Homo sapiens: one gene and its partners. The protein of the gene in region 1 purifies or fractionates together with the protein of each later gene. This does not show direct contact. Each region holds a gene or a part of one and is shown in the gene's direction. Other genes may lie near its edges.

Evidence for each region.
Region 2: the proteins of ASIC4 (region 1) and CNNM1 purify together in Homo sapiens (affinity purification with mass spectrometry; 2 studies listed by BioGRID and IntAct, with this or other methods). This does not show direct contact.
Region 3: the proteins of ASIC4 (region 1) and LSR purify together in Homo sapiens (co-immunoprecipitation; 3 studies listed by BioGRID and IntAct, with this or other methods). This does not show direct contact.
Region 4: the proteins of ASIC4 (region 1) and NFXL1 purify together in Homo sapiens (co-immunoprecipitation; 2 studies listed by BioGRID and IntAct, with this or other methods). This does not show direct contact.

What each region holds. Positions count from the first base shown.
Region 1 is NC_000002.12:219,508,939-219,517,484, forward strand, and holds the start of ASIC4 (acid-sensing ion channel 4), read left to right. Parts: upstream 1-5,786; coding exon 5,787-6,368; intron 6,369-7,757; exon of another isoform or gene 7,758-8,148; intron 8,149-8,266; exon of another isoform or gene 8,267-8,330; intron 8,331-8,546. UniProt on the Homo sapiens protein: Does not exhibit measurable stand-alone pH-gated sodium channel activity but may form pH-gated heterotrimeric sodium channels. Its activity could also depend on alternative gating mechanisms.
Region 2 is NC_000010.11:99,331,883-99,339,556, forward strand, and holds part of CNNM1 (metal transporter CNNM1), read left to right. Parts: intron 1-7,674. UniProt on the Homo sapiens protein: Probable metal transporter.
Region 3 is NC_000019.10:35,251,755-35,259,428, forward strand, and holds part of LSR (lipolysis-stimulated lipoprotein receptor isoform 2 precursor), read left to right. Parts: intron 1-7,190; coding exon 7,191-7,310; intron 7,311-7,316; exon of another isoform or gene 7,317-7,674. UniProt on the Homo sapiens protein: Probable role in the clearance of triglyceride-rich lipoprotein from blood. Binds chylomicrons, LDL and VLDL in presence of free fatty acids and allows their subsequent uptake in the cells.
Region 4 is NC_000004.12:47,848,216-47,855,889, reverse strand, and holds part of NFXL1 (NF-X1-type zinc finger protein NFXL1), read left to right. Parts: intron 1-726; coding exon 727-831; intron 832-3,947; coding exon 3,948-4,034; intron 4,035-4,741; coding exon 4,742-4,795; intron 4,796-7,553; coding exon 7,554-7,674.

The sequences.
Region 1 (8,546 bases):
TCCCTGGCACCAAGCTGGATAGGGCGACAGGGGAGGAGAGCCGGGGACAGGGACCGAGTGTGGAGAGAAATTTGGATGGGCTTCAGGAGCCAGCCGAGGGGGAAAGGCTGAGCCAAGAACACAGACTTGGGGGAGGCTGGCCAGGACAGGGTGGGGTGGGGGCAGAGCCCTCATCTCCCTCCAGTCCCCTAGGCCAGGCTGCCAGGGGGCCCAGTCCCACCTCCATCTCAATCCCCTCCCCCTGGCACTTAGCAGCCATTATCGGGGGAGCAGATTGCAGCCCCCTCCCCCTCTCTGGGAAGCAGGCACAGCTGGGGCCCCACCACATCTGCTGCATCCGCACGGAGCACAGCTGGGTGTGCCCAGAGCTGCACTCCCCAAAACACAAAGGGGGTGGAAAGGGGTGGGTGGGGGCCAAGGAGAGCCCAGACCCCTGAGACAGACACACTGACACCTCTGCCAACAGACACATACTCTTTGAGGCGAAGCTACACCCACTGACACACGCTCCCTCGTGTGCAGAGACGGGAGAACTGGCAAACATGCAATTACCCGGCCCCGCCTGCCACCCCCGCTCCCCTTCCCCAGCCCCTCCTGCTCCCCTTCCTTCCCTGAGGCTCCCCTCTGCCGCCATGGCCACCTCTGAACTGCCCTGGGCTCTGGTGTGGAGGGAGTGGGGGACCTCACACACCCCAAGTACATCCTGGGAGGCTCAGAGAGCAGGAGGGCAGGGGGTGGTGAGGGGTGTCTGAGTTCAAGGGGTGATCTCTGGGAAGCCATCTGCCCTCCTTCCAAGCCCACACCCCTCCCCATGAAGAAGCCCCCTCTGAAATTGATCTTTGCCACAGCCTGGGCACTACAAGGTCTCGGTGCCAGCGCTGATCGCTGCGGCACCCTTGTGCTCCACTGGCCACCTCAAGGGGGTGCTGTGTGTTCTCAGTCTAGCCTTCAGCTCAGCTGCTAGGGTTGGCCCCTGCCACTGCCCCCACCCCCAAATCCGCCCGTTCTCGATCCTCGGTAGTGCGTCCCTCTGCTGCCCCTGACATGCATGGGGTGTGGGGGGCGGGGGCTCTGTCAATGGCAGAAAAGTCCCCCTCTCCTAGGACAGAGGAGAGAAGGATCAGGAATTCCTTCTCTCCTCTCCCCGTCGATGACCACCTCTTGGCCCCTGATGAAACCCTGCCGTCTTCACAGCCCTCACTTTTCCCACTTATCTCCTTGGCCCTAGTGTCTTGCCCTCAACCTTCTCCTCCCTGCCCCACCCCCCAATTCCCACACCGCTCCCCACATGCCCCTCGGAGCTCTAATCCCTCCTGCTGCTGTGCCGCCTTATCTGCTCCCAGCAGCTTTCGCTGCTGCAAAGCCCTCTCCCCCTCCTTCCTCAGCTCTCTCCGCTCTCTGACCAGCACCCCCTCCCGGCCAGCCTGTCTCTGCCACTCAGGCCCCCGCTGTGGCTACTGGCTGACACCGCCTCTGTACCCCATGCCCTTTGCCCTCTGCAGCCTCAGCTCCGAGGTTGTCGGCTGCACACCCACTCCCACGATGGCTGCGTCCATCCCAGCCCTCCCCCGCAGGCCCCACAGACTTTGTTAGTTTCTGGCCAGCCAGGATTTTTCATCTTCCTGCCCTCCCTTTCCTGGTGTCTTCCCCACTTCCTCCTGATGCCCCCATCCCATCTTGGACCTGGTGTCCTTATAGTCCCAGGGACCCGTTGCCTTGGCTTGGGAGTACCCGAAAGGAGATGGGAAGTGTTGGTATGAAACTCGGGAGAAGGTGCTGGGCTGGGTTGGCCCTAGAAAGATGGGGTGGGGGTGCAAGGAGTACTGGCGGACAGTGGGGGCAGGGCCTGGCGGTGGGACGCTAACCCTCTTCAGTCGCCTCAGATCACGTTCGGGACTCCCCACCCCCCTTCTCTGGGACTCTCATTAACCGCTTCTCCTGCCTCGTCCGCGGCATAAATAACCCAGATAAATCAGCCGCCGTCCGCCCCCCGCCCCTCGGCCCCTGCACAGCCCGTTTGTCACCGCTGTGTGCTCACCAGCCAGGCCTGGACCAGCCCAGCCCCAGCCCCCCCATCCTTGTCCCTTACCGCCCACATCTGTCCCACACTGGCTCATCACTTGGTCCGCACCAGGGCCAGGTGTCTGGGCTGGGGAGGGTGTCCTCTGGGTGCAGGGGGAGGGAGGCTGGGCATCTTTTGGAGAATGCTGTCTAGGAGTTCAGGGGGTCACAGCATTTTTGAATGGGGCCAGCCAGGCAAGGAATCTGGGCATCAGCTTGGGGGTTCCTGTGCTTTGAGAAAGCACCCTTGGAACCCCCCAGGTTGGATCCTGGGAGGTCTCTGGGTCTGCCTTTGGGGCACTTTGCCCAAACAAAATCTCCATGCCTCCTCCCAGGAACCTTGAGCCAGAAACCCACTGCTCTCCCTGTCTCTCCCCCCGACTGCATGCACTGCCCCCCCCCCACATTCTGCCCTGTTACCAAACCTCGTCCCAGTCCATCTACCACTCATTCTCACTGTCAGGAAGCTCATCCCCTGGGGGGCGGAGGCAGGTGAATTGGACTGGGAATAAATCTGAGGAATGGGGACAACCAGAGAGCAAAGGAACCTGGGATGAGGCTTCACATTCTGACCCCGCAACACCCAGCTCCCCGGCACTCCCAGTCCAGGGTCCCTAACAGCCCTGCCCCCTTTGCTCACACCCAGCTCAGGGCCTGGCCAGCCACACTTGTCCCTGATGCCTCACTGCAAGGGGCAGCTGGTCCCCCGGGAGTGGGTGGGGGAAGCAGGGAGGGGTGGGGGAGCTTGGGCGCAGGGCCGGGGTGGGGGTGGGGAAGAAGCTGGGCCGGGCCCCAGGGACCAGCTGGGCAATGAGCCGGGGAAGCAGCCGGGAGGCTAAATGAGGGAGATTATCACCCAACTGCAGCCGGGCAGAGAGGGAGGCAGGCAGGGAAGCGGGGAGAGGGAGGAGAGAGGGGACGGGGCCAGAGGCAAAGGGGGTATAGAGAGACAGGGAGGGGGCCAGAGGGCCTGGTGAGAAGCGGAGGGAAAGGTCAAGAGATGAGCTGGAAGTATGGGGGCACTCCCTCAGAACATCACCAGATTCCTGGAGATCTGGGAGACTGGAGGCTGGGGGCTTGGGGACAATTGGAGACAGCTGGCTGTGGGGCAGTGGTGGGGGTGTGCATGCAGCTAATTGCTGCTCCACTTCCTGGCAGCCTGGAGCTCCCCTCACAGCACCCCCCGCATGCCCCTTATACCCAGTTACCACCCGATTTCTTTCCTTATAGAGGTTGAAGGCATCCTGCCTACCCTCAGGAGGAAAGAGGATGTGATTTGTCTCATGATGGAGGCCAGTATGTTGTCGGGGAAGTGTGACCCCAAGATCTCAATAGATGGTGGGTGAATTTAGAGATATGTATGCACTCCAGGGTAGCAACGAGTGCTGCGGAGAGTTTGGGGGGCAGTTTCCCGCTTTCTTGGCAAAGCCCCAGACTAAAGTAACCTTAAAAAGCAATTAAATCACCTTTTAAAAAAAACAGTAAAGAAAAATCAATATTAGGAGAAAGGAGAAGAGAGAGAAGGATGGGGAGGAACAGTGGGGGGAGTTCTGGAAAGGTTTGGAAGTCTACCAGGGAGGGGAGAGCATAGGAGGCGGCTGCCTGGGCATGGGACAGAGAGAGGGGGCTGTCTGTGGTCACTTGGCCACTTTCAGTGCTAACTCAGCGGCTTTGTCCAATGCCAATCCCACTTTCCCTTCTGGGACACTATGTCCCAGCCAGATGCATCACCCTGCCCCAGGGGTCTTATCTTCCCAGCTTGGGGAACCAGCTGACCCAGACTCATTGGAGGCTTGTGGGGAAGCCCAGCTGTGGGGTCCCTGGGGAAGCCACTTTGCCTAAAGGCTAGGGACAACCTAAGCAGGGCACCACGCATGGTCAGGGCTGGGTGTGTGGGCAGGCTCCATGCTGGGGTGACCCTGATGGGGCCTGACCTGGCCTTGCAGCCAGGGTGGGCAAAGTGGCTTCCAGCTGCTAAGGGAGCCATCCCTAGGCCCCTCCCCTGGGGCCAGGCAGAGGCTGCGGGGCCAGGCCTGACGCAGGGGGCGGGGTGGCCGTTGGGCAGCGGGTGGACCTCGGGCTCTAATCCCCAGCAGCTGCCGTTTCCCTCAGATCGATTCCTTTCTCACTTTTTTTCTCAGCTGCTGGTTCTGCGGCTTGGATCGATGGAGCCACCTCCCCCCGCCCGTCCACGCTTCCTCTCCCTGCTGCTCATTAGCGCCCCGATTAATCAGCCCCCCTTTCCTCCCGGGGACAAGGGCTTCCTCCCCCGTGAGGGCACATGCTGTCGGATGGGGCCCCAGAGCACAAGCACTGATTCTTGCCACCCCCACCCTGGGGGCATGGATGCATCCCCTCCTGGCCAGTCAACTGAGGCTCCCACCCCCACCTATGATGATGGCCCACATGCCTGTTCCCCTCCACGAGAACACAGCAGACCCCTTAGGGCTCTCCTGCCCCACTCTGCCAGGCACCCCTCAAACCCCTTTCTTTAGGAGAGCATTCGCTCCCATTGACGCCCAGCACATCTTCCTGCTCCCTTCCACGCCCCCACTGGGGCTCTTCCTCTCCCTCCATTGCATGCCCTGTCCCCCTACATATAGAGCACCCCGGAAGCACACCTCCCCTTTGCTCCCTGGCTTGCTTACCCAACAGCCCTCCCCCGAAGCCTGGTTGTGGCAAGGGATTTGGGGAACATTTGGGGAAGCAAAGTGGCCACAGATATGCAAGCTGGCCAGGGTGCTGTCTGTCCCAGACATATGAATGACTGAGATTGGGGTTGGGGGCAAAATGAGGGTGAGGGCAGCCAGCCTCCCAGAGGGGGCAGGGGCATGGTGGGTGTTGAAGTCTGGAGCAAAGCTCCAGGGAAGCTGAGAATCTTGAAGTCACAGTTGTCCCCTGGTCTGTCTAGCCTGCCCTCCTCTGCCCCCCTCCCTCCGTCATTCAAACAAGTGGCTCTCTCAAGGAGTTTCTGGAAGCTGCTGTGAGTCGGGTAGTGGGATCAGGTGGTGGCTGGGTGCTGGAGTCAGGAGTCTCAGAGGCCAGGAGGTGGGGGGATAGAGTTGGCTGACCCTTCATGGGGTGTGGGCCAGGAAAGTGGCAAAGAATGAGCTGAGGACCCTGGGCACGGCACCCTTCCCTGGGTGGCCAGGAAGTGGGGAGATCTGGGGACCCAGTGAGCGGCTAGGGTGCAGCAGGAGTTTGGGGGATAGCCCCAGTCTTGGGATCTCTGTCCTGGGCTGGGGACTGCCCCCTCCCCTGGCCTGGCTCCTGACGCCCGTGCTGCCGGTGAAACGCTGTTGACATGTCCTGAATTATTAAGCGTGGGGAGGGCTCCGGAGCACATGCTGAGCGGAGCGGCTGGGGCTGCGCGGCGTGGCGGAGCAGCGCTCGCTCCCTCGCTCACTCGCTCGCTCGCAGGGACACACGCAGGGGCTGACAGCTGTGCTGGTGCTGATAAGGGAAGCCACAAGGAGACGATCGAGGAGAGAGACAAGCGGCAGCAGAGGCAGCAGCGGCAGAGGCAGCACCAGGGCTGCGGAGCTGCTGGGAGTGGGAGTGACTCCCCCACCTCGGGCCCCCACCCTGTCCCTGTCCTCTTCCCGCTTGCCCTGAGTTTAGAAGAGCAGCCGCTGCCACCACTGCCACTCGGGAGGGCACCAGGGCTGCTGGCTAGGGAGGGACAGGGCAGGGAGGCTCTGGCCAGTCCCAGCAGCCGGGGACAGATGCCGATCGAGATTGTGTGCAAAATCAAATTTGCTGAGGAGGATGCGAAACCCAAGGAGAAGGAGGCAGGGGATGAGCAGAGCCTCCTCGGGGCTGTTGCCCCTGGAGCAGCCCCCCGAGACCTGGCCACCTTTGCCAGCACCAGCACCCTGCATGGACTGGGCCGGGCCTGTGGCCCAGGCCCCCACGGACTGCGCAGAACCCTGTGGGCACTGGCCCTACTCACCTCGCTGGCTGCCTTCCTGTACCAGGCGGCTGGCCTGGCCCGGGGCTACCTGACCCGGCCTCACCTGGTGGCAATGGACCCCGCTGCCCCAGCCCCAGTGGCGGGCTTCCCGGCTGTCACCCTCTGCAATATCAACCGCTTCCGGCATTCGGCACTCAGCGATGCCGACATCTTCCACCTGGCCAATCTGACAGGGCTGCCCCCCAAAGACCGGGATGGGCACCGTGCGGCTGGCCTGCGCTACCCAGAGCCTGACATGGTAGACATCCTCAACCGCACTGGCCACCAGCTCGCCGACATGCTTAAGAGCTGCAACTTCAGTGGGCATCACTGCTCCGCCAGCAACTTCTCTGTGGTGAGTTCTGCCAGCTGGGCTGCCTGGCCTTGGATGGCCGGAGGCTGGGGAGTGGGGAGGAGTGGTGGCAGTGGTGTACAGGGGCATCCTCAACAGGGCTTCCCTTCATTCCACCACCAGAGGCTGGCCTCGTGTTTCCCCAAGCCTGGCGTCTCCCTCTGGCTTCCCAGCCATGGAGCAGTGGCCGCTCATAGGGGCTTACCCTGGGGCGCCTGCTGCTCCTCTTCTTGGTTTTGCTGCTGCTGCAGTGCCCAGGTCTGGGAGTTGGGGTGGGGGTTCCTAGGCATGGGCCCAGGTGTCCTGGAGCTGGCTGGCTTGCAGGGAACGCACGCACCATCCCAAGGCCAGACCAACTGACTCTCACTTTTCTCTTGCTCCCTTTTTCTTCTGAGGCTACTGGATTCTTCCCACCAAACGAAGGAGATAGGGAGGGGAGGTTTGGGGGGCTCCATCTAGGGAAGGACCCCGGGTGGCCTCCTGGGGAGCTGGCCTGGTGGGCAGGCTGGAGAGACCCGGTCTTCAGGACACTGGGTGCCAGTGTCTCTTCTGGATCTCTGTGTGTCTCTCACATGCCTGCCTCACAGACTCCCTCACACATCCCTCTTTCATTCTGCCCTCCAGCCCTCCTGGGGTCCAGTCCCCCTCTGTCTCCTGTTCTAGCGGCTCCCATGCCCAGCTCTGGCTCTTACACTGGGAATCACTGGTTCACTCTTATGTGCATAACTCACCCTCACTGCTGCCCCAGCACGGGTGCATGCACACATGCACACGCACACACGCACACGCACTGCTGGGGGACACAGTTTCCTGCACACTCCCTCTCTCACTCACTGTCCCTGTCACTACACTCACATGCACACCTGCACACCCACACCCAGAGAGCTACTCATCTCCATGTCTAGCTCCCAGCTCTCGCTTAGCTGCCAAGGACAGGGTCCCACTGTGGATGCCATCCCTTCTCATGACACCCCCACCCCCATCTATCCCAACCGCTGCTCCCCATTTGGAGACTGCTGGCGCCATCTGTCACCTACGTGTGAGCACAAACACAAGCACCCTCTCCGGGAGAGGGGTGTGAGCTTGGGCTGCTCTGCCATGCACGCCTCCCACAGTCAGGTATGTGAGGGGGTGGGCGTGTCTTGTACACTGCCTGTCTGTCAGGGCTCCATTCACCCATAGTCACAGGGTATCTAGTATTCATGGCGCTCGAGATGCTTGTCCCTAGTCCACAGTTTGCTCCCAGCATTGTGTGTGCATGCGTGTATGTTTCATCCTCGTTGCCACTGCCCAGTGCATATGCAAATGTTTGGCGTCAACATGGTGCCCACTCCAGCCCAGCCTCCAGCAGCCAGCCCCAGTGATAGGGACCCCCGCCAGGTTCTCACTCACCCGCTGCCTCAGGATCACCAGGAAACATGCTCCAGCCAACGAGGTTCCTGGCCCCCACCATGCCTGCAGTGTCTGGGGCCTCCCGCCATTGGGCAGGGGAGTTAGGTAGAAATAGAGGGACAGGAGCAGGAGCATTGTGCAGGGAGAAGAGTCGGGGGCATTGGCCTGTTGTCCGGCTGTACACCCCCTTTCCTAGGGAAAAGCACTGCTCCCCAAAGCAAGGGTTGGTAGAGTCCCCGAGGAGGAGGTGGGATATGGAGGGTGAGTGTGGCCTTTGGGATCCATAGGGCTCTGCTGTCCTCAATCCTCACCACTCCGTATTGGGAGCTGGGCAGAGCTCAGTCTTAGCAGGTGCTGTTGGGACAGAAATCAATGGGATCTTTGTGTCCCCGAGCGGGAGTTGGGGGTGGGCAGGAAAGGGGAAGGGTGATGAGACCTCAGTGAGAGGAAAGGAGAGGAAGAGCTGGAGGGGGTGAGGAAGTAAGGGGAGGGAGGCAGAGGGTTCTGCTTGGTCTCCAGGCTAGGAGGCGGTGCCTGGAGGATACAGGAACGGGGATCCTCTGATCAAGGCTGGTGAGTCCCCGGAATCCTGGGGATGGCCTGGAGGAGTGTGGGTGGATTTCCCACAGGCCCTCTGGTACCCTGGGGCTGGAGAAAGGAGGATGGTAGAAGTCCGTGGGCTGAGGTTCTGGCCCTGGTGCAGGACAGTGGGGGTAGAGGGCATAGCTAGCATTGGGGGACAGGAATTCCCCTTTGGGATTTCCATTTCCCCTGTCTCCAGCCCAGCCT
Region 2 (7,674 bases), on another chromosome or scaffold:
GTGGGGTTTCCTTCAGCGCAGTCACCATCTTCCAACTCTCCTCCCCAAACTCAAGCTTGATGTCATGCTTATAACATGTTTACTTCATGTCTGAGTTTGTCTTCAGAAAGTGCCTTCTGGTGACTACAAATTCACTCAAGAAAAATCAGCCTGGATACATTAGAGTCACCCCTCTTGGCATTACACAGTTTGACCGCCCCCCTAGTTCACCAGATTTGGCCCAGAACCCTTGATTGTTTTTTAAAATCAAATCTACTTTCAAGAGTCAACACTGAGAGCATTCAAAAGACTATCTCACAAACCCTGAAAGCAACACCAGACATCATAATTTGAAAACAGGGACATAATTAGAATAAGTGTAGAACTTCCCAGAATGACTCCTTTGAAGGAGGCATTCATCTGATATGAGTTGGAATGTTTATTAAAAACAAAAACCAAAAAAATCAATCCCTTGACTTCAGATTCAGCCTTCAGATATAGCTTCCTAATGGCTAGCAGTACTCTCATTTAACTGCATTTTGTATAAATTTTTTGTCAAAAATTTAATGTCATGATAATTTGAGCCCGAGGCTGCAGTGAGCTATGACTGTGCCACTGAACTCTAGCCTGGGTAACAGAGCAAGACCCTGTCTCAAAAAAGAAAGAAAGAGAGAGAGAGGAAGGGAAGGAGGGAGGGAGGGAGGGAAGGGAAAATTCAATCTCACTACTTTAACATCATAAATAATCTTTAGAACTTTGAATACAAACAAATCTGGGGTCTTTTTCCTGCCACAATTTTTGAAATCATATTAAATATTAAAATGTAGCCTGGAAGGGGGGAAAAAGGTCTAAAAGCTACTTTCAGTCTCAGATTTGAGAGAACAGCCCTAGACTTTGTGTTGGTATGATGAGAAGGGAGAGAAATGTATATATGGCAGCTATTTTAGTCCATTTTCGGTTGCTGTCTCACCCTGTTCAGTCCATCTCGCCTTAATCCTTGCATTCATAGTTCCCACTGCAACTTGAGGTTCATCTATCCACTCTTAGAATTATGCTTACATTTTGTATATCTTACAGAAGTAGGGTCTTAGATCTGGGCATTGGGTGGCATAAACCACAGAAATTTATTTCCTCAAAGATCTGGGGGCTAGCAGTCCAAGATCAAGGTGTCTGGCAGGTTTGGTTCCTTCTGAGGCGTCTCTCCTTGGCTTGCAGTCACCACCTTCTAACTGTGTCCTGACATGGTATTTCCTCTGTATGCATGCATCCCTGGTGTCTCCTTGTGTGTCCAAATTTTCTCTTCTAACAAGGACACCAGTCAGATTGGATTAGAGCCCACCCTAATGGCCTCATTTTAACTCAGTCACCTCTTAAAACTGATAGTTAAGATACAGAGCAGTTAAGATAGTGTCTCATTGTCATGTGCTGGCAGAAGATGTTTTAAATGAAACTCCTGTGAACTCATTCATTCATTTGTTTAGGTTTGTTTGTTTGTTTGTTTGAGACAGAGTTTCACTCTGTCGCCCAGGCTGGAATGCAGTGGCGCCATCTTGGCTCACTACAAACTCTGTCTCCTGGGTTCAAGTGATTCTTCTGCCTCAGCCTCCCAAGTAGCTGTGATTACAGGAGTGCACCAACACGCCTGGCTAATTTTTGTATTTTTAGTAGAGACAGGGTTTCACCATGTTGGCCAAGCTGGTCTCGAACTCCCGACCTCAGGTGATCCACCTGCCTTGGCCTCCCAAAGTGCTGAGATTACAGGCATGAGCCACTGCACTTGGCCTCATTTAGTATTTTTTAAACATCTATACAGTTTTAGGCAACAAGGGAGACAGGAAGACTGTCCTCAGGAGGTTAGCAATATACAGGGCATAATGAGCAGTCTTTCGAAGCAGGAATTGTCATATCAACTCTTATATCCCCAGCACCTTACACACTGCCTTGTAAATAGTAAGCTGTTCCAAAAAGTTGATATTGATCTGAAATGAATCCCTGTGCAGAATTTCTAAACCTGGTCGAAAAAAGCTCCTTTAGTGTTCTATTAATAGCTACTTTGTATTTAGGTAGAGCACTAAAGAGAAGCAAGCCATTACAGAGAATACTATACCAAGGAAGATATTTCCACTTCCTTTCATAGCCTTGCTACTTCCTCAAAGTAAGGTCCGTGAAACAGCAGCATGAGTCTCACCTGGGAACTTATTAGAAATGCAGAATTTTATGCCTCACCCTAAATCCACTGAATGAAAATCTGCATTTTAGCAAGCTGCCAGGTGGCTCCTATGTAACATTAAAGTTTGAGAAGCATTGCCTTCAGAGACCCCTTATTAACAGTGTTTGGTAGATCTACTTAAGATAGAATATAAGACATAATGAACAAGGTGGATGTTCTCAGGCTGCAAGCCATATAACATAGTGGTCATTTTCTTTAGGAGTTATACATTTGCACCATAGGTTAGGAGGTGAAAGCTGGGTTGAACTGCTTTCCTTTACCTTTAAAAATAACGTTTTTGGCTGGGCGCAGTGGCTCACGCCTGTAATCCCAGCATTTTGGGAGGGCGAGGTGGGTGGATCACCTGAGGTCAGGAGTTCGTGACCAGCTTGGCCAACATGGTGAAACCCCATCTCTACTAAAAATACAAAAATTAGCCAGGTGTGGTGGCACACACCTGTAATCCCAGCTAATTGGGAGGCTGAGACAGGAGAATTGCTGAGACAGGAGGCGGAGGTTGCAGTGAGCTGAGATCGCACCACTGTACTCCAGCCTGGGTGACAGAGAAAGACTCTGTCTCAAAATAAATAAATAAATAAGAAAAAAATAATTTTTAAAGCTGGTCTTTAATAGCTCTTCCATTTTCCTTACTTCCTTGCTTCTCAAGTAACGTAACCACCAACAAATCCCTTCGAAGGTAGAAGAGGAAAATGACGATATTAATAGGAGCCACAGTTACCATTAATTGAGCACCAACAGTTCTTCCAGGCACCATGCCAGGCCCTTTACATACTCAGAACAACCCTCCTGGGTAGATGTCATTAACTACATTTTACAGATGAAGAAACTAAAGCTCGGATCAATAACATGACTTGTACAACTTTCCATAACTAATAACTGACTGAACTGTGATGTGAACTACATCTGTAGGACCCGAAAGCCTGTTCTTTCCCTGCTACACCTGTCTTATTCCTTCCTCCATCCTGGAATTCCTGCCACCCACAGGGTTCAAAGGTAGCCTTTTCACCTCTGATTGCTGCCCATGGCTGATTCACCTCCAGTTTCTGCAGGTTAGTAATGTAGCTTTATAATTACAGTAATTGCTAACATGCATATTGCACTTGATAAAACATTTCTATATACCTTCTCTTGTCCAATCTTAAACAACTCTGCAGTTACAGGTGATGATATGGGATTTTATCTTTTTACTTCTTATGAGTTGCAAGTCTTTAGAAGTGGGGAAGAGGAAAATGGTCTTTCACACTAGAGTGTGAGGTTTACAAAAGGGAACAATATTTCTCACCACTGGACTGTAAGTTCCTTGAGGACAGAGAATGAATCTTACTTATTTTGTATTCTCAGGACAAGTATAGTGACCGCCATGGCTAGGGGATGTATAACCATTTATTGAATAAATGGTTTTAAATACCTAACTTCTATATTTCTATGTTTGAGTGAGGTGAACCCTAAGTACGGAATAATTAATGTTGTTCCTTGATCCCAGCAAATCTCTCCTCTTCCTCTTCATGGGCCTCTGTCCCCAGTAAGTGGCACCACTTGTCCCTTTAGTCTCCCAGACTAGAAAGCTTTCCTTTGCATTCACCTCATCCTATTAATCATTGTCGTCTGCACAGGCTGTCATTAGAAAATAGCATAGACTGGTGACCTAAACAACAGAAATTTATTTTCTCGCAATTCAAGGCTTTGACATCCAAGATCAAGGTTTTGGCCAACTCAGTTTCTGGTGAGGACGTTCTTCCTGGCTTGCATGTGGGTGCCTTCTCTCCATGGCCTTTCCTCAGTGCCTGTCCACAGACAGCAAGAGGCTCTGGTCCTCTCTTCTTAGAAAGACATCAATCCTGTTGGATTAGGGCCCACCCTTATGCCATCATTTAATCTTAACTACTATACTTCCTTAGAGGCCTCTCTGGGTGTCGTTAGGGCTTCAACATATGAATTTTGTGGGAAGACAAACATTCAGTCCATAACAATCACCAAAGCTGGCCAAATAATTGGATGCCAATATTGCATCCAACTGCAGTCATGTCATTTTGGTCAATGATGGACTGCATGTATGATGGTGATCCCATAAGATTACATTGGAGCTGGAAAATTCCTGTCACCTAGTGATGTCCTAGCAGTCATAACACCTAACATCGTCCTAAGGCAACACATTACCTTTACTATGTTTAGATACGCAAATACTTACCATTGTGTTACAATTACCTACAGTATTTGGCACAGTAACATGCTCTACAGGTTTGTAGCCTAGGAGCAATAGATTATAACATATAGCCTATGTGTGTAGTACACTATATCCTCTAGGTTTTGTGTGACTACATTCTATGATGTTCACACAATCATGAAATTGCCTAGCAATGAATTTCTCAGAGAGTGTCTCCATAGTTAAGCAGTGCATGACGATTTCTTAAATCTGTACATAATTTAATCCACTATTTGTTCCACTTAGGTTATTCACTGATTTTATTCAACAAATAGTTGTGTTGGCACAGTGGAGAACATCATCAACATAGTCCTTGTCTCTATAGAGCTTCACTCTAATACAGGAAACAGAAATTAAACGAACAGGATAGTGATTAAGAACATAAGATTTGGCCAGGCGTGGTAGCTCACTCCTGTAATCCGAGCACTTTGGGAGGCCGAGACAGGTGGATCATTTGAGGTCAGGAGTTAGAGACCAGCCTGGCCAACACAGTGAAACCCCGTCTCTACTAAAAATACAAAAATTAGCCGGGCAGTAATGGTGCACACCTGTAATTCCAGTTACTCAGGAGGCTGAGGCAGGGAGGTTGCAGTAAGCCAAGATCATGCCACTGAACTCCAGTGGCAACAGAATGAGACCCTGTCTCAAAAAAAGAACATAAGACTTACTAGAATGCCTGGGTTGATACTGGCCCTGGGCAAATTACTTAACTGTTTATGTCTGTTTCATTAGCTGTAAAATGAAAATAATACTAATATTTACTCATAAGATTGTGTGAAATATTAAGACTATCGCATTATGCTTACTTACTACCTGTCATGTAAGTACTAAGTAGATGTTAGCTATGATTATTAAATATAAACACAAGTCTATTACTCATTTATGCAAATGCCTCCTAAGAAGTTACACTTTTTCACATTTTTGTCTCCCTCAAATTCGTTCTCTCTAGTGCCACTAAAATAATCTCCAGTAATGTCACTGCTTAAAACCCTTCAGCAGCTCCCCGCTGCCTACGGGAGAGAGGCTAAGCTGGTAAGGCAGCCAGCAATGCACTCATGACCTGCTTCTTGCCCTCCCCTCCAGCCTCATCGCTCACCACTCCCTGCCACAGCTTTACCCTCCAGCAATGCTGAACTCTGTGGTGCACTGTGCTATTCTTGCCTTTGTCCCTTTATTCACATTGCACTTCTGTCAGGAATATGCTTTGCCTGACTAATTCATTGCCAGCTCTTTGACACTCAGCTCAGGGGCCTCCTCCTCTGGGAGACTTCTCCTGTAAACCCCAAAATACAAAAATAGATTTTTTGGCCAGCTTCATTGTTTTATGTGCATATCTCAATCATTGAACTAACAAGCTGTACTACCAGTGTTTGTTTATAAGTGCCTCCCACCCATATAATGAGCATCTCCAGGGCAAAACTGTCTTATCTGTCTTTGTAGCTCCAGCAGCTAACGATGCATATGACACATAGTAAATTTTCAATGAATGTTTGTTTAAGGACTGAATGGATGACTTAAGGAGTTAAACTTTAATATAATGGAAGAGATCTGCAGAGCACTAGAAAATGAATTAAATCATTTTGGACTATGCAGCAGAACAAATCAAACTTATAAGTTTGTTAGTGTTAGAAGAAAAGTGTTGCATCTATTGTTTCTCAGCTTCTTTAGGTACATCTATTAATATTTATTACAACAATTTCTTTTCACATGTAAAGCACTGTGCTAAGAGTTAGGGGTATGAGATAAAATCTCTGTTCCCAAAGAGCCTAAAGCATAGTGGATGAATAGCACTTCCCTTTGCAAAGCTAGAAGGCAAGCTGGACACTCACCTTTCCCATGACTTCCAGTGACCTTGAATTTACAAGTCATGTCTCAGTATATAAGTACAGGATATGGGTAAGACAGACCTTGGTACATAAAGCATTAAAATGAAAGTGCTATACTAGAAATGCAAAAATGCAATGGGAACATGGAGGATACAATAACTATGACTAGGTGGCATTTTTTTTTTTTTTTTTTGAGATGGAGTCTCACTTTGTCGCCCAGGCTGGAGTGCAGTGGTGTGATCTCGCCTCCCAGGTTCAAGCGATTCTCCTGCCTCAGCCTCCCAAGTAGCTGGGACTACAGGCATGTGCCACCATGCCCGGCTAAATTTTTGTATTTTAGTAGAGACGAGGTTTCACCGTGTTGCCCGGGGTGGTCTCGAACTCCTGAGCTCAGGCAATCCGCCAACCTCGGCCTCCCAAAGTGCTAGGATTACAGGTGTGAGCCATTGCACCCAGTCATATTTTGCTTTTATAAATTTTTTACTGAAGTTTATGTTTCTATAATTTATACAGAAAAAAATTTAAATATAGAATAGTAGAAAAAAGAAGTATGAAAATCATATGAGGATAATCATCCCACTATCCTGAAATAGTAACTCAATATTTTGTCATATTAAAAATATATTGCACATAATAACAATCTTAATGAAATTCTTAAAAAGAAAACAAAAGGAAAAGCCCATTGTCCTGCCATCAAGCACAAATCAAATGTCCCATTCTAATCTTAAGAGTGATTTTCTTATAGGGTGGTATTTTTGCTATAGTTTCCTCAGGGTTGAGTGCTATAATTTGGGAAGACTAATTTTAAAAATGGAGCCGTAGAGATTTATCATACTTCTTAAATTTACTACTCTATTATTGGATTGCTTTTAGGAGACACTGAGTTCTGTATAGACAACAGGGGAAAGGAATAAAGCTTTGTTCTGAAGTCAAAGCTTCTGAGTAATACAGCACTGACTGACATTTAACTCAATTAAACAATTCAGCTTTGCTGGGCTAGTAACACCATCTTTGCAAACAAAAAAGCACAACCCACGTATGCTAGGCTGCTCCACCTGTACACTAGCATGGCTGTAACACAGCCTACTGCACAATCCATACTCAGTCTTTGCTTATTCATTGATTCATTCAGTAAACATTTTTTGAATTCCTGCTTTGGGCCAGGCATTACACTAGACTCTGGGAATACAGTGGTGAGCTAGGCAGACATTATGGAGCTAAAAATATCCTCTTCCATCTTTGGTCTTCCTGCAAGTGGTCTGTTGCCCAAAGCAGGGGTCCCTAACCCCCAGACTGCAGAATGGTACCAGTTTGTGGCCTGGTAGGAACTGGGCCACACAGTGGAAGGTGAGCAGTGGGCAAGCATTACTGTCTGAGCCCCACCTCCTGTCAGATCAGCTGGGGCATTAGGAGCGAGAACCCTATTGTGAACTGCA
Region 3 (7,674 bases), on another chromosome or scaffold:
ACAGAGAGGTTACCTTGTTCAAATGGGTGCATAGGAAGTCAAAGTCTGGAGCTGGGGTTTGAACCCAGGCAGCCCTGAGAACCTTGTTCTTTTTTTTTGAGACGGAGTCTCGCTCTGTCGCCCAGGCTGGAGTGCAGTGGCGGGATCTCGGCTCACTGCAAGCTCCGCCTCCCGGGTTCACGCCATTCTCCTGCCTCAGCCTCCCAAGTAGCTGGGACTACAGGCGCCCGCCACTACGCCCGGCTAATTTTTTGTATTTTTAGTAGAGACGGGGTTTCACCGTTTTAGCCGGGATGGTCTCGATCTCCTGACCTCGTGATCCGCCCGCCTCGGCCTCCCAAAGTGCTGGGATTACAGGCGTGAGCCACCGCGCCCGGCCCCTTGTTCTTAACTGTAATGCTGCCTCCTGATAGGATGTGCCTGTTGGGACTAAGTAAGGGGCAGTCATTCATTCATTCATTTGGTATTTATCAAGCATCGACTATGTGTCGTTGGTGCTGGGGATAGAGGTGATTGGGATGGCTGAAGTTTCTGTCGTCAAGGAGATGACATTCTGGTGGAGTGAGACTGGCAGTAAATAAGCAGATAAAGAAAGAGTATGAGAATTTCAAAGTCTGGGCACGGTGGCTCACGTCTGTAATCTCAGCACTTTGGGAGGCCAAGGTGGGTGGATCACCTGAGGTCAGGAGTTCCAGACCAGCCTGGCCAACATGGTGAAACCCCGTCTCTACTAAAAATACAAAGATTAGCCAGGCATGGTGGCACATGCCTGTAATCCCAGCTACTCAGGAGGCTGAGGCATGAGAATCGCTTGAACCCAGGAGGCAGAGGTTGCAGTGAGCTGAGATCGCACCACTGTACTGCAGTCTGGGCGACAGAGTGAGACTCTGTCTCAAAAAAAAAAAAAAAAAAAAAGACTCCGTCAAGGTATAAGAATGTCAGAGAGTACTAAGTGTTGCAAAGAAAATAACACCAGGCTGGGTGCATTGGCTCATGCCTGTAAATTTCAGCACTTTGGGAGGCCAAGGCAGGAGGATCACTTGAGCCTAGGAGTTTGAGACCAGCCTGGACAACAAAATGAGACCCCATGTCTACAAAAATTTTAAAAATTTAAAAATTAGCTGGGCATGGTGGCATGTGCCTGTGGTCCCGGCTGCTCAGGAGGCTGAGGTGGGAGGATTGCTTGGGCTTGAGAGGTCAAGGCTTCAGTGAGTCATGATCGTGCCACTGCATTCCAGCCTGGGTGACAGAGTGAGACCCTGTCTTGAAATGAAAAGAAAATAGGCTGGGCGCAGTGGCTCACACCTGTAATCCCAGCACTTTGGGAGGCCGAGGTGGGTGGATCACCTGAGGTCAGGAGATCGAGACCAGCCTGGCCAACATGGTGAAATCCCATCTCTACTAAAAATACAAAATTTAGCCGGGCGTGGTGGTGGGCGCCTGTAATCCCAGCTACTCGGGAGGCTGAGGCAGGAGAATCGCTTGAACCTGGGAGGCGAAGGTTGCGGTGCGCCAAGATTGCGCCACTGCACTCTAGCCTGGGAAACAGTGAGACTCCGTCTTAAAAAAAAAAGAAAAAAGAAAATAGCACTGGGTGATGTGCTACATGGAATGACTTGGGCTGTGAATATGATTTGAGGAGGGCCTGGGCCTGGGCCTTACAGAACCTAGAAGGCAGAGAGGAAGGGGAGGGGCAGGGTGCCAGGGATGAAGGCTCACGTACCTCATGTCTTAGTGTGTGTTCACTGTCTTAAACAAGAATTTAAAGTTGGGCATGGGGCAGAGCGGGGAAGGGAGCATCCCTTTGCAGACCCCAAGAAGCCAGGAACTGGAGCACATTCTGCTAGAGGATCGATGGGAAGCAGGGTTCCAGGGGCTGAGCCTATGTCAGTCCTGTTTCAGAGGAGGCACCAGGCTTGCTTGCCCTGAATTTCTGTGGGCAGCTCAGCCATGAGCATCCTACTGTTATTGAGGTCACAGGGCTGCTTAGGCCCCCTCCTCTCTAACCCAGGGATTGTGCCTGCCTGGACCAGGCGTGACTGCTAAGCTTCTGCCAGGACAAGCCAAATACTGAGGGTGCTTCCTCTGCTGGACGCAAAAGTCCAGGATGACCCCCCAGGCTCTGTCTCGGGGAAGGGGCCCTGCATGCTCCAGGGGCCTCACAGGCCTGGGTCTTTCAAACCACCCCCACCTGGGCCTGTGTTTGATCAAGGCCCTGAGTGTAAACATCCATTGTGTGTGTCCTTTCAGGAAATCCCATAGCCATAGGAGCTTCCTCTGTTTCAGCTTTGAGGATGGGGAAAAGTGGACTCCCCGTGGTGTTCCTAGGGTCACCCACTGTGCTGGGGTTTTTCTGTTGTTGTTGTTTTTTTTCTGTTGCCCAGGCTGGAGTGCAGTGGTGCAATCTCAGCTCACTGCAACCTCTGCCTCGCAAGTTCAAGTGATTCTCCCGCCTCAGCCTCCTGAGTAGCTGGGATTACAGGTGCACACCACCACACCTGGCTAATTTTTGTATCTTTTTGGTAGAGATGGGATTTCGCCATGTTGGCCAGGCTGGTCTCAAACTCCTGACCTCAGGTGATCTGCCTGCCTTGGCCTCCCAAAGTTCTGGGATTACAGATGTGAGCCACCATGCCCGGCCTATCCTGGTTTCAAAAGTGAAAATAGTCCTGGATAAGGTAGAAGGCTGTCCACTCCAGGCATCCCTCCGGTCCGGTGGCTCATTCCCTGCTTTGTCCTTCCATGCTTTGGGTGATGGACCAGCACCTGGACAGGAGGCCCTGTTCCACCTCCTCGGGCTCCTTGGGGTCCAAGTGCCCCCACCTCCAGCTGCACTGCAGCAGAGAGCCCATGGGACCTCTGAAATCATGAAGGTCACCTTTGCGGTGTATAAAGAAGGAACCAGAGGTTGGAGATGTGGAGGAGGCCTGGCTGCTGTTCCCACTGGAGACCTGGCATCTTCTCCCCGACCTAAAACAATGAAAGCAGTGCTCAGCCCGGATGAGATCACGGCCAGCCCAAGACCAGGAACAGGGTACGCCCTGCAGGAAGAAGGTGTGCCCAGACCTTAGGATGGATCAAAAGAAGCCGGAAAACTATATTTTTTGTGAGTTTTGAAAATGTCAGACAGGTCAAACAAAACACAGTGAGGTCCAGCCTCGGCCTACAAGATGCCAGATTTCAACCCCTGGCCTATATGATCTGTTTGCCATGGCAGGCGGTTCCTGTCCACCTCTTTTGTTTATAGCAGGGACCAGCTCTTGAGCTCCAGTGTTGAAGAGGCACGGTCAGGGTCTGATCTGAAGACACTGGTGGCTCATGCCTGTAATCCCAGCACTTCAGGAGGCCGAGGCAGGAGGATTGCTTGAGGACAGGAGCTGGGAGACCAGCCTGGGCAACACAGTGAGACCCAGAGACTACAAAAAAATAAATTTAGCGGGGCATGATGGCACACCCTGCTACTCTGGAGATGGGAAGATTGCTTGAGCCTAGGAGTTCGAAGCTGCAGTGACCCATGATCGCACCACTGCACTCCAGCCTGGGCGACCAAGCTAGGCCCTCTCAAAAAAGATACAGGTGGAAAAATGATGGACGAAGAGGGCATTGTGGCAAACCTGGGGATTTAGGAGAACCTAGTTTGGAATTCTATGAGGATTCAATGAAAGAATGTGTGTAGAGGGGCCCAGCACATAGTAAGAGCTCAATAAACGGTGGGGGCTAGGGGCGGTGGCTCATGCCTGTAATCCCAGCACTTTGGGAGGCTGAGGCAGGTGGATCACTTGAGCCCTGGAGTTCAAGATCAACCTGGACAACAAAGCAAGATCCCATCTCAAAATTAAAAAACAACACCAACAACAAAAAAACAGTGGCTTAGATGCCTGATCATTAGGGTAAGTCGTGTCCTCAACCCCTTCACATCTGCTCTGAAGGTCACCATATCCGGAAGCCTTCCCTGGCCTCCTTGTTTAAAATGGCACAGCCCCCACTCCACGCCTGGCACTCTCTGCTGTCCCTGATTCGTTTTCTCCATACAGCTTATCTTTGTCTGATATGTGACATAGTTAACATTTTATATTTGTCTTTCTTTCCTAGTTAGAATCTGAACTCTAGAAGGGCAAGGGCAAGGATTTATAACTCAAAGGTTCCGGGCTTAGGCCTCTTTTATATTCTTGATTTTGAGGTTAATTAAGAGCTCAGGCCTAGCGAGGTGGCTCATGCCTGGAATCCCAGCACTTTGGGAGGCCCAGGCGGGCAGATCACTTGAGGTCAGGAGTTCCAGACCTGCCTGGCCAACACAGTGAAAAACCTGTCTCTACTAAAAATACAAAAATTAGCCAGTTATGTTGGCAGGCGCCTATAATCCCAGCTACTCAAGAGGCTGAGGCAGGAGAATCGCTTGAACCCAGGAGGCAGAGGCTGCAGTGAGCCAAGATCGTGCCACTGCACTCCAGCCTGGGCAACAGAGCGAGACTCCATCTCAAAAAAAAAAAAAAAATTAAGAGCTCAAAGAGTTTGTTTTCATAGGCAGCAGAATGAGAAAAGTTTACAAAATAGTTTAAATGACAATAAAGTCATTATAGATTAACATAAATAAAATACCTTTTATGAAAAAAATAATCATTTTCTGAAATCAGACAAAACATTGTGAATGAGAAGGTGGCATGGTTTTATTTTTTTGCAAGTCTCCGAAGCCTGGCTGGATAGAAGAGCCTGGCTTCTCAGAGCTGCTTCAGTCTGTTGTGATATCTATTGTATGTCACGTAGCCTCTGGAAAACTCCACAGTTAGTATTGTTGGGAAAATAACTTTGACCTCAGGATCTCCTGAAAACGTCTTGGGGAACCCCAGGGTCTAGAGGCTGCAGTTTGAGAACTGTTGCTGTGGTATCCCAGGTGTCTCAAATACTGCCTAGAACATAGGTGGTACTCAGTAATTATTGTTGAAGGATGAATGAATGAATGAATGAATGAATGAATGAAAGAAAGAAAGAAATGTGTCTTTGAATCCAGCCATGTGCCCAGAATGATGAGACAGATGACAAAAGCTAAGGGACTTTAGCATGAGGAGAGGGGGTTCGTTTCCTTTTTTTTCTTTTTTTTTTGAGATGGAGTCTCACTCTACTGCCCAGGCTAGAGTGCAGTGGTGCAATCTCAGCTCACTGCAATCTCTGCCTCCTGAGTTCAAGCAATTCTCCTGCCTCAGCCTCCAGGGTAGCTGGGACTACAGGTGCGTGCCACCATGCCTAGCTAATTTTTTACATTTTTGGTAGAGATGGGGTTTTACCATGTTGGCCGGGCTGGTCTGGAACTCCTGACCTCAAGTGATCCACCTGCCTCAGCCTCCCAAAGTGTTAGGATTACAGGTGTGAGCCACCATGTCCGGCCAAGAGGGTGTTCATTTCTGCTCCTTGCCAGGTATTGTGTCAGGCACTGGGGACCCAGCAGTGGCTGAGACAGACAGGGCTCTGCCTCACGGAGCCCACATTTTCACCAGGCAAAGGATGGTCGGCCCCTAAGCTGGGAGATAAGACTTCAGCAGTTGGGTGGGGGAGCCGTGGGAGAAGCCCAGCCCACAGGGGGACAGTGCAAATCTAGAACCAAGGCGATGGCAGGGGTGAGGCTGGCACGGTAGCTAGAGACCACGTCGTGCCAAGGGCCTTGGGGACCATGGGACTATGGGACCTTAGGGAAGGCGTCTGGAATGCTGTAGCCAGACACTGTTGCAAGGAGGATTTTTCTGTAGACATGAGGCCTTCCTTATGAAGAAAGCAAGGGTTCTTTCATTCCTGGGGGTGCCAGGTGCTGTGGACTGCAGCACGCGTGGTTGCTGCCGTCACAGAGCTGTCATGCAGGAGGGCAGCGCGTCCTTGGGAAGGTGGCAGGCAGGTCAGGCTAGGAGGAAAGAGGCCGGGAAGCTGAGGGCATTTCCTGCCCGAGATGCCCAATGTAGCCTACTTCTGTCCCCAGTGGCTTAAGGCAGAGTTGCCTGGTAGGTGCCCTGGTCCCACCCTGGTGAAAGGCTGAAGGTATTTAATTAGTGCCTGAGAAGCAGAGAGGAAACAGGATGTGCCAAAACACTTTGATGGATGGTAGAGTTAACAGGCTCCTTGCCTGCAGCTGCTTCAGACAAGAGCGTCCCCAAGCCCTGGGCCTGACCTGGAATGTGGGGATGGAAGGGGAGGGGGAGGAACCAAGGCACTGGGAGGGTAAGTCTCTCTCTCCCACATAGACACACCCACTCCTTATGGGTGCCTGGGCATCTCCTGGTACCTAGAATCTGGCCTGTTTATCTCCACACCCATCCCTGGGGTCTACACTAGGCCCTGTGGGTGGCAGTTCACATCAGGGGAGTTCTGACTTTGGCTCTGAGAGGTGGTTCAGAGATGGCTGTAAGTTGAGAAGCACAGACTGCTGGGTGTGGTGGTTCACGCCTGTAATCCCAGCACTTTGGGAGGCTGAGGTGGGGGTGGATCACCTGAGGTCTGGAGTTCAAAACCAACTTGGTCAACATGGCGAAACTCCATCTCTACTAAAAATGCAAAAATTAGCCAGGTGTGGTGGCAGGTGCCTATAATCCCAGCTACATGGGAGGCTGAGGCAGGAGAATTGCTTGAATCTGGGAGGCGAAGATTGTAGTGAGCCGAGATTAGTTCGCACCATTGCATGCCAGCCTGGGCAACAAGAGTGAAACTCCGATTCAAACAAAAAAAAAAAAAAGCTGGGCATGGTGGAGTGCCTGTAGTCCTAACTACTCAGGTGGGAGGATTGCTTGAGTCCAGGAGGTTGAAGTTGCAGTGGGCTATAATTACACCACTGCACTCCAGCCAGGGCCACAGAGTGAGACCCTGTCTCTAAAGAAAGAAAAAAAAAAACAACCTCAGGCTCCGAGGGCACCATTACTGCTCTATACTGAAGAGCTGTGCAGCTTTTCCAGACCCGAAATGTCATCCACAAAACAGAAGTGATAATGGTCCTGCCTCACAGACTTCTTGCAGTAGTCCAGGTGTTTAGAACGGGGTGTAAAAGGCCGTGTGCCCTTGGTAGGAATCTTTGCATATGCATTTGATCATCTGCAGCCTGCCCAGCCCACTGCTTGCCCCCTCCTGGGTGTGCTGGGAAGGGGTCTTTGGCCCTCCAGGGGTTAGGTGCCCCAGCCTCCAAGGTGCCCTCACGCCTTTTCATCCCGACTCAGATGCTGACCTGACCTTTGACCAGACGGCGTGGGGGGACAGTGGTGTGTATTACTGCTCCGTGGTCTCAGCCCAGGACCTCCAGGGGAACAATGAGGCCTACGCAGAGCTCATCGTCCTTGGTGAGTGGGCCTGGGAAGGGGGAGGCATGGCCCTTCCTTTTGTCCGCTTCTGTTCTGTCTGCCCTCCCCTGTGTCCGCCCTCTGCCCTCCAGCTTACCCTCTGGGCTCTGTCGCCTGCTCTGCTCTCCCCCAGGCTCTGCCAGTCACTTAGGCTCCCCTGTGCCCTGCACCCCAGGCAGGGACCACTGGCCCACAGTGCCTCCAATCACCCAAGCCAAACTAAGAGAAGAGTGGAGACAATTGGAGACTCTGCCTTTTCAAAGTCTCATTTTTAAAAAAAATCCAGACTTGGGGTCCGGGTGCGGTAGTTCATGCCTGTAATCCCAGCACTTTGGGAGGCCGAGGCGGGTGGATCACTTGAGGC
Region 4 (7,674 bases), on another chromosome or scaffold:
GACCATGAACATTTCATCTTAATGCTTGACTAGGATAGGAAGACAGTAAACAATTAAAGACACGGAGCATAAACATCATGGCAATTACTGAGTTGTTTTGGCTACCTAAATAATATTTTTTTAATATTAGTAGAAAGGGTAAATGTTGTAGAATAAAAGGCTAAACAGTTATAACACCGTATAAGGACAGGGCATTTTCTTTTTTGTTTTTTTTCCCACAGTGCAGTACAGGGAAGGTAGGTGTGTCATTGTATTCCATGTGTTCACCCATGAATCCAAGTCAGCTGGCAGCTCTGCTCTCTTTGGCATATGGTTTCCATTACCGCTCCAGCTTTCATCATATCCAGGACATGGGGAAGAGAAGAACATGGAAGTATACTCTTGAAATGATCTGAAGCATGAATCACCTGTACTTGCTTACATTCCATTGACCAGAACTCAGTTATATGGCTATAACTAGCTACAAGGGTGGCTGTAAGATGTACTGTTGGAATGGAGCTGGGGAGAATAATTAAATATAATTAAATTATATATATATAATTAAATTATATAAGTGTAATTAAAATAATTTATATCTAAAAGAAAAATAGTTTACAAATTATCCCATTAGCTAGGATTGATTGACCCTTTGTGTGATGGACTCTCTTAAAATTGTTGGGGTATGGGGGAAACTAGAGTATGATCAAGATGTAAGTATGTAATTGCTTTATTTTGATTTTATTTTAGCTTCCTTGTGGTCATAGATGCAAAGAGATGTGTCATCCTGGTGAATGTCCCTTTAACTGCAACCAGAAGGTAAAACTTAGATGTCCTTGTAAAAGAATAAAAAAGGTAAATATTTTAAGTTATTGAAAATACTTTTCTATATAAGTTGTTTTTGTGTGGTTTTCTTGTTCTTGTTTTTTGATCTATGTGTTTTGGTAGTTGTTTGGCTTTTTTTTTTTTTTTTGCCTTTTAATTTTGAGGTTTTACTTCATAGAACTTTTTTATTATTGAAATGAGCCTACTAGTTCTTTAAACATTTATTTTAAACATAAGCTTTGGCGATTTAATTTTCTGCAATTTAACAGTAAAAGGAAAATTATTTTTTATGTTGGAACCAAATTCAATGCCCTGTTTTGGTCAATGTGCTTTAGATTTGAGGTCTTTGAACAAGGAACACAATGTAACGGGTAGAATGTTTCATTGCTTAAGAAATGGCTTGAGATTAACTTTGTTGCTGTTATTTATGAAATTCTTTTTACCATCAGTATTGTCCTTTGAAAATATTGCCTTAAAAAGACCTCATATGAATAGCCTTATAAAGTAAAATAACATGTAAACTTGGAAAGAACTAATTTTAAGATAAAATGATGGTAACAGAGGAGTAAATGGGCAAAAACTAATGATTACAAAGCCTGATGGAAACAAACTATATACTGCTCAACAAAACTTATGAAGGAAAATATACTGTCCTAATAGTCTTTTTCTCAATTCTCTGTTTCCTTGATCTTCCCTGTTGGCAGTGCTTACTCCTTTGAAACCAACTTTTTTGACCTCTGATTTACCCTATCTCAGTTATAGTCGTAACTCCTTTTTTTTCCTTCATATTCCTATTGTCATTCCCTAAAGCTTGTCTTTTTTGTCTCTTGAAATTCGCTTTTATTCATCCATGTGATGGATATGTATTGAGGATCTTTTATAGGTCCTTTGCCTTTCATTTATGTTCATAGTTTCTGATATGTTTTCCTAGGATAGGGAACTTCTGAATTTAAATTTATACACTTGGCCTTTTAGGGAGTGGAATCTTTAAGTTTTAGATATTTAAATTGACCCCCTGTACCTGAAAATAAATACTTGGTCAAGCCATTTTTAATGTGAGATGTCTCTTAAGTTTTCTCTGAAATCTCATGTCTTGTCCAAGTGCCATATGCCACCCACCCGTTAGTACTTTGGAACAACTCTTTTCTGGGCTTTGGCCACAACTTCGTGACCCATTTCCTTGTCTCTAGTCACACCACTTCCCTGTTCTAAATTCTTCAATGGCTCTTCATCACTTATGGAAAAAGTGCATTGTATAAAAAATGTGTATGTGTAGGTATATGCAGACTCGGCATACCAGGGAGGCTATGATAAGACATTTGCCTGCTTGTTCAGTCTCGTCATCTAGCAATCATCTCTGTGAATCTGTTACTTAAGTGCCCTAATACATATATTGTACCCTCGCTTAGCTTAGGCTGTGGCAATGTATATATATTTTTTTCCTGTGTAAAATACAATATGTTTTTCCTTTAGCTCTCTGCTTACTAGAATCCTGCTAATACTTATTGGAAGCACTTCCTTGTTTGAGAAGGTTTTCCTTCCCCAGGTTCCCTTGGGAAGGCTTAGCTGTTCCTTCCTCTTGACTTTCTTTGTACTGGGTTCATAATGTAGAGCTTTGTGATTCTAGGTATCTGTAACCTTGTTTCCTCATCTGTAAAATAGAGTTTATAGAGATTTATTGAAAGGAATAAAAGAGGTAGTGCTTACATAGCATTTAAAACAATGCTATGTTTAATAAATAGTAGCTGCCATTACTATAAAAGAGGTAGTGCTTACATAGCATTTAAAACAATGCTATGTGTAATAAATAGTAGCTGCAATTACTATTGTTATTTATTTAGCACTTAACAGATGATTATACTGTTTATTTCTTACTGTGTTCCATTTCCCTGTCATGGTGTTTAGCATGTTATAGGCACTCTGTAAGTATCCTCTGAATGAGAAAAGATAAAATCCTCTTCTAAGCTGATGGACTTAATGTCTATAAACACACGATACTTATTTTTGTCTCCAGTGTTTGTTCATGTTAATTTTCTTATGTCTGGACTGTCTTTGGAGGACAAGACTATGTTTATCACTAAATCAAGCCAAAAATGAAGAACTAAGGAATAAAAAAAAAAAAACCCTCCAAGTAATAAAATTCCATGCCATAAAATGCTTTTACTAAATGCACTTTACTCAGGATTTGGTAATCTCATGTCTAAGCTGTGGTAGATTTGAACAAAAAACTAGAGTCTGAGGGTCTGGTGAGACAGGAGAAACTGATACAAATTAAATATACTGAGAGTAAAAGTGACATTGGCAGCAATAAATGAATGAATAAAAGATAGATGTACTACAAAAGGCAGTCTAAAACTAATATAAAGACCACTCTTCAACTCAGTAGGTCATCGTTTTATTCTGTCGTAGTACAGAAATTGGTCATAGTTTTGATGTCAAGACATCAAAAACAGTAGATCAGTGTTCTTTCATTAAGGAGGTAGTGAAGTGCCAACATAAGCTTTAGAACAATTTTCATCTAAACTTAAAAAAAGTTTAACAGTCGAGAGAAAAATTTGTAGCTCCCCAGAAAACTCTCTAGAGCTGCACTATCTGAGATGGTAGCCACTAGTCACATGTGGATATTTAAATGCAAATTGTAATGAATTAGCATAAAACAGTATTAAAAATTTGGTTCCTCATTTTCACTACCCACATTTCAAGTGCTCAGTAGCCATATGTGGCTAGTGCTACTCTGTGGACTAATGCAGATTTACAACATTCCATCCCACGCACATACCAGGAAGCTCTGTTGGACAGCACATTTGTAGAACATTGTATTCCCTGGACACTTTGCAAGAATAACAAACAATAAAGAAAAGTAAAGAATAAAAACAACATGGGAGCTAAGTCCAATAGTGGCACATAGTAATTATTAAGTTGATTTTTAAAAATTTTATGGTATTCTCTTTTTTAAGTTAAGAGAAAATAAGCAAGTAATCACTATTTGAAGCAGATATTTAATGCTTGCAACTATATCATCATTAAATATTAAGACATCAAATAATACTTATAACCTTAAGCTATCAGATGAACTTTGCTTTTTTATGGCAGACAGGTCTTTGAGGGAAAAATCATTTAAAATTTGAAAATCGGGTTGTTTGTAGGAATTGCAGTGCAACAAAGTACGTGAAAATCAGGTTTCAATAGAATGTGACACAACGTGCAAGGAAATGAAGCGGAAAGCATCTGAGGTAATGTCTCGTTAAATATCATTTTAAAGACTAGTGGCCTTTCCCTTCTTATTTTGTGCATTTATGTACTTATTAAAAACAACTTGAAATCTCATTTTTTTGCTTTTATAATAAAAGCCTAGTTTTATAGGCTTATTTTGAATGGCAGATTGGGATTTTCATTGCCTAGTGTATATGAAGGCTTTTCATCTTCTATGCCCGTTATAAGATTTTGAGATTCTTTGCTGCTTGGGTTATCTCTAGTGTTACTCTTCCCCTCCATCAACCCAATCAGTGACCTCTTGATTTTGTTTGAAAGTAAGGATTCCCTTCCATGATAGCACATTTAAGATAAATTTAACTCTAGAGAAACAGCAGTATTTAATAATTAATTCTAGATTCTTAATACAGCAACTCAAGAGGAAAAAAGGCAGTTTTAAAATTTGCTGTTACAGTGTTTTAACTCTTTGAATTACGATGTAATACCGATTTTACTTGTTAAGCTGAGATGCTCATATAAGGTATAACACTCCATCCATGACCACCTTCAATTTATTAGATAGTGCCTTGGTAAAACCTTGTCTCAGTATAGCATTTACATTTCTTTAAATGATTTCAAGCTCCTAAAAGTTGATATGGGTTAATAGAACCTGGATGGGTAGATGTTAAAATTCCATATAAAATGTGATGACTAAATTGTAAATTGACTTTTGTATGTGTATAAACAGATAAAAGAAGCAGAAGCCAAAGCTGCTCTTGAAGAAGAAAAACGAAGACAACAGGTAACCAAACAAAATACCCAGATTTATGTCTCTTAGCATCATTGCTAGATTTTGTGCAAACACGGGGTATATTCCAAGGTCAAACTAAGGTCTAGTCTCTATTGTGAACTGAAAATAACAGTTCTTGTAAAACAAAAATGAGCCATCTACTAACTTGACTTTAAGTATACTGAAACTCTGAAAAGGTATGAGATCTCATATATTCCCAAATTTTTTTTTTGTATTTCCAATTTACTTTCTTGCCAATATCATCCATACTTCAGCCAGAAGAATTTTAATTCCTCCTTTGGCTGGGGAGTGAGAGTGAGCGAATCATCACCATTGTAAGGCATCTTCTGGAGACCATGACTTTACTTAACTAAAAGTATTTGAGTTCTATTTTACTGAGTTGCAGACCACCTATAACAAATAAGTGCAGTTTACTAATCAGTACATTTGTTTTAATAATATATTCCCATATTTCCCTATTAGATCTTTAAATGCGGGATTATAACCTGTTCTTTGTTGTTACCTAGAGAACAAGTACATTCCTGATACTCCCTGTTTAAGTATTTACTTTATTGATCATACACTTGAAAGAGTGGCTTGACTTTCTAATAGTGATGTATAACTTTTTATTATTATTTGTCAGTTTGTATCTTGAAATGCTTTATACTTATCAGATTGTATTGTGTGCTAAGCTACTGCCTTTATGAATGATGAGATTGAAACTTGCGTGATTTGCATGAATAAGGAAATTCAAACTTTGATGAGTTGTAGGAACAATTAGAACAATTAGGAACATTAGAAACAATTCATGTAGTAAATAATGGTTGGCCAAGGTGACCTTTGAGATTTTATGGTTCTGTAAAGTTGATTTGCCTGATATCCCCAAAATAAGTTATCAGAGCTAAATAGTAAAACATAAGTTGGCTGGAATCCTAGGAGATTAAGTTATTAAGAATAGTTTAGTATGTTTTCTCCTTATTCCCTTTGCTATCTTTTTATAAATCATCATGGATGAAAATCTTAGATACATTCCCTGTTTACTGACTCTTTAAACAGAATATAATCAGTCCTTAGTATATGTAGGTTCTGCATCTGTGAATTCAACCAACCACAGATCGAAAATTTGTTTCAAAACAAGTAAAAAAAAAAAAAAATAAATAATACGCATTTTAAAATACAGTGTAACACCTATTTACATAGCATTTACATTGTTATTAGGTGTTATAGGAAATCTAGAGTGATTTAAAGTATACAAGAAGATGTTTGTGTGTTATTTGCAAATCCTCCACTATTTATGTAGAGACTTGATCATCCTCAGGTTTTTATATCCAAGGGGATCCTAGAACCAATTTCCTACAGATACTGAGGGATCACTGTATACAGCACATAATATATACTTGGTGACTGTGAGTCACCATTTAACTGTCAGTTATTTTACTGTGTCTGTAGTCCTCAAGTTTGCCTGCTTTTAAGATATTTTGACGTTTTTTATATGTCAGAAACTAACCACTTGGGAGTAGTCTGACATTTTGGCTCATTGAAGAATGCCACTTTGTATTAAACTAAGTTTATTATTAGATCTTTTTCAAGTGTGGTTTATGACCACAGTAATGGATATGTGAACTAAAGTTTACATTTCCTCCTATTAAATAACCATTTACAAAGTTTTAGGTGGATATTATTAAATACATATATATTTTAACTATTGTCTTAATTACCTATGCACTATAGCATATTATATTACATTATTATGTGTAAAAGTTTAATAAGTACTTAGCAGTAGGATAAAAATCCCCATTTGATATTGAATGCAATTCAGTTATCGTCTTTTAGTACTAGTTTAAAATTTTTATGTCTAAAATAGTCATTTTGATTTTAAAGCATGAAGAATTTTTTCCTTTGAAGAATTTTTACTATTTTTAAAAAATGTATTTGGTAGAGAAGAATCGAGTTCTGGCAGCTTTTTTCTCTTTACTCACTTGAATTTCTTTCTTAAAAGCCACTAATGTTTATTGCATGCATTGTAAACAACTAGAATTATAGGTATCTTCATTCTCACTAGGCATCACAGCACTTGCTAGAAGCTTTATAGAATGCTGGTTCTATAATAATTGGGTTGAAGTATAATGGTGTCAATGTATAAGACCAGTGTCTATATTTTAGAGCATCCTGATTTAATAAGACGTTTTATTTTATTTATTTATTTATTTATTTTTTTGAGATGGAGTCTCTCTCTGTTGCCCAGGCTGGAGTACAGTGGCGCCATCTCGGCTCACTGCAAGCTCTGCCTCCCTGGTTCACGCCATTCTCCTGCCTTAGCCTCCCGAGTAGCTGGGACTACAGGCACCCGCCACCATGCCCGGCTAATTTTTTGTATTTTTAGTATAGATGGGGTTTCACCATGTTAGCCAGGATGGTCTTGATTTCCTCACCTTGTGACCCGCCTGCCTCAGCCTCCCAAAGTGCTGGGATTACAGGCGTGAGCCACCGTGCCCGGCCTAATCAGACATTTTAATATTTAGTATCATAGTCAGCCCTACAGTTTGAAATATTCTCTTCTGTTATCTCCCAGTCTCCTTTCTGCTTACCTAAACCCTGAATTTGTTGAATACAATCAGTAGTGGAGAGTAGTGTTTTAAAAAATCAAATCAATATATTGACTATATATCATTACTATTAAAACATTACCCAAATTGATTTTTATGTAAATGGAAACTTTCAAATCAATGTATGCATTGAATTTAATTAAAATGATGCTGTTTTTATTTAGGCTGAACTAGAAGCTTTTGAAAACAGACTGAAGGGTCGTCGGAAGAAGAACAGGAAAAGAGATGAAGTGGCAGTTGAGCTATCACTATGGCAAAAACATAAATATTATCTCATTTCAGTGT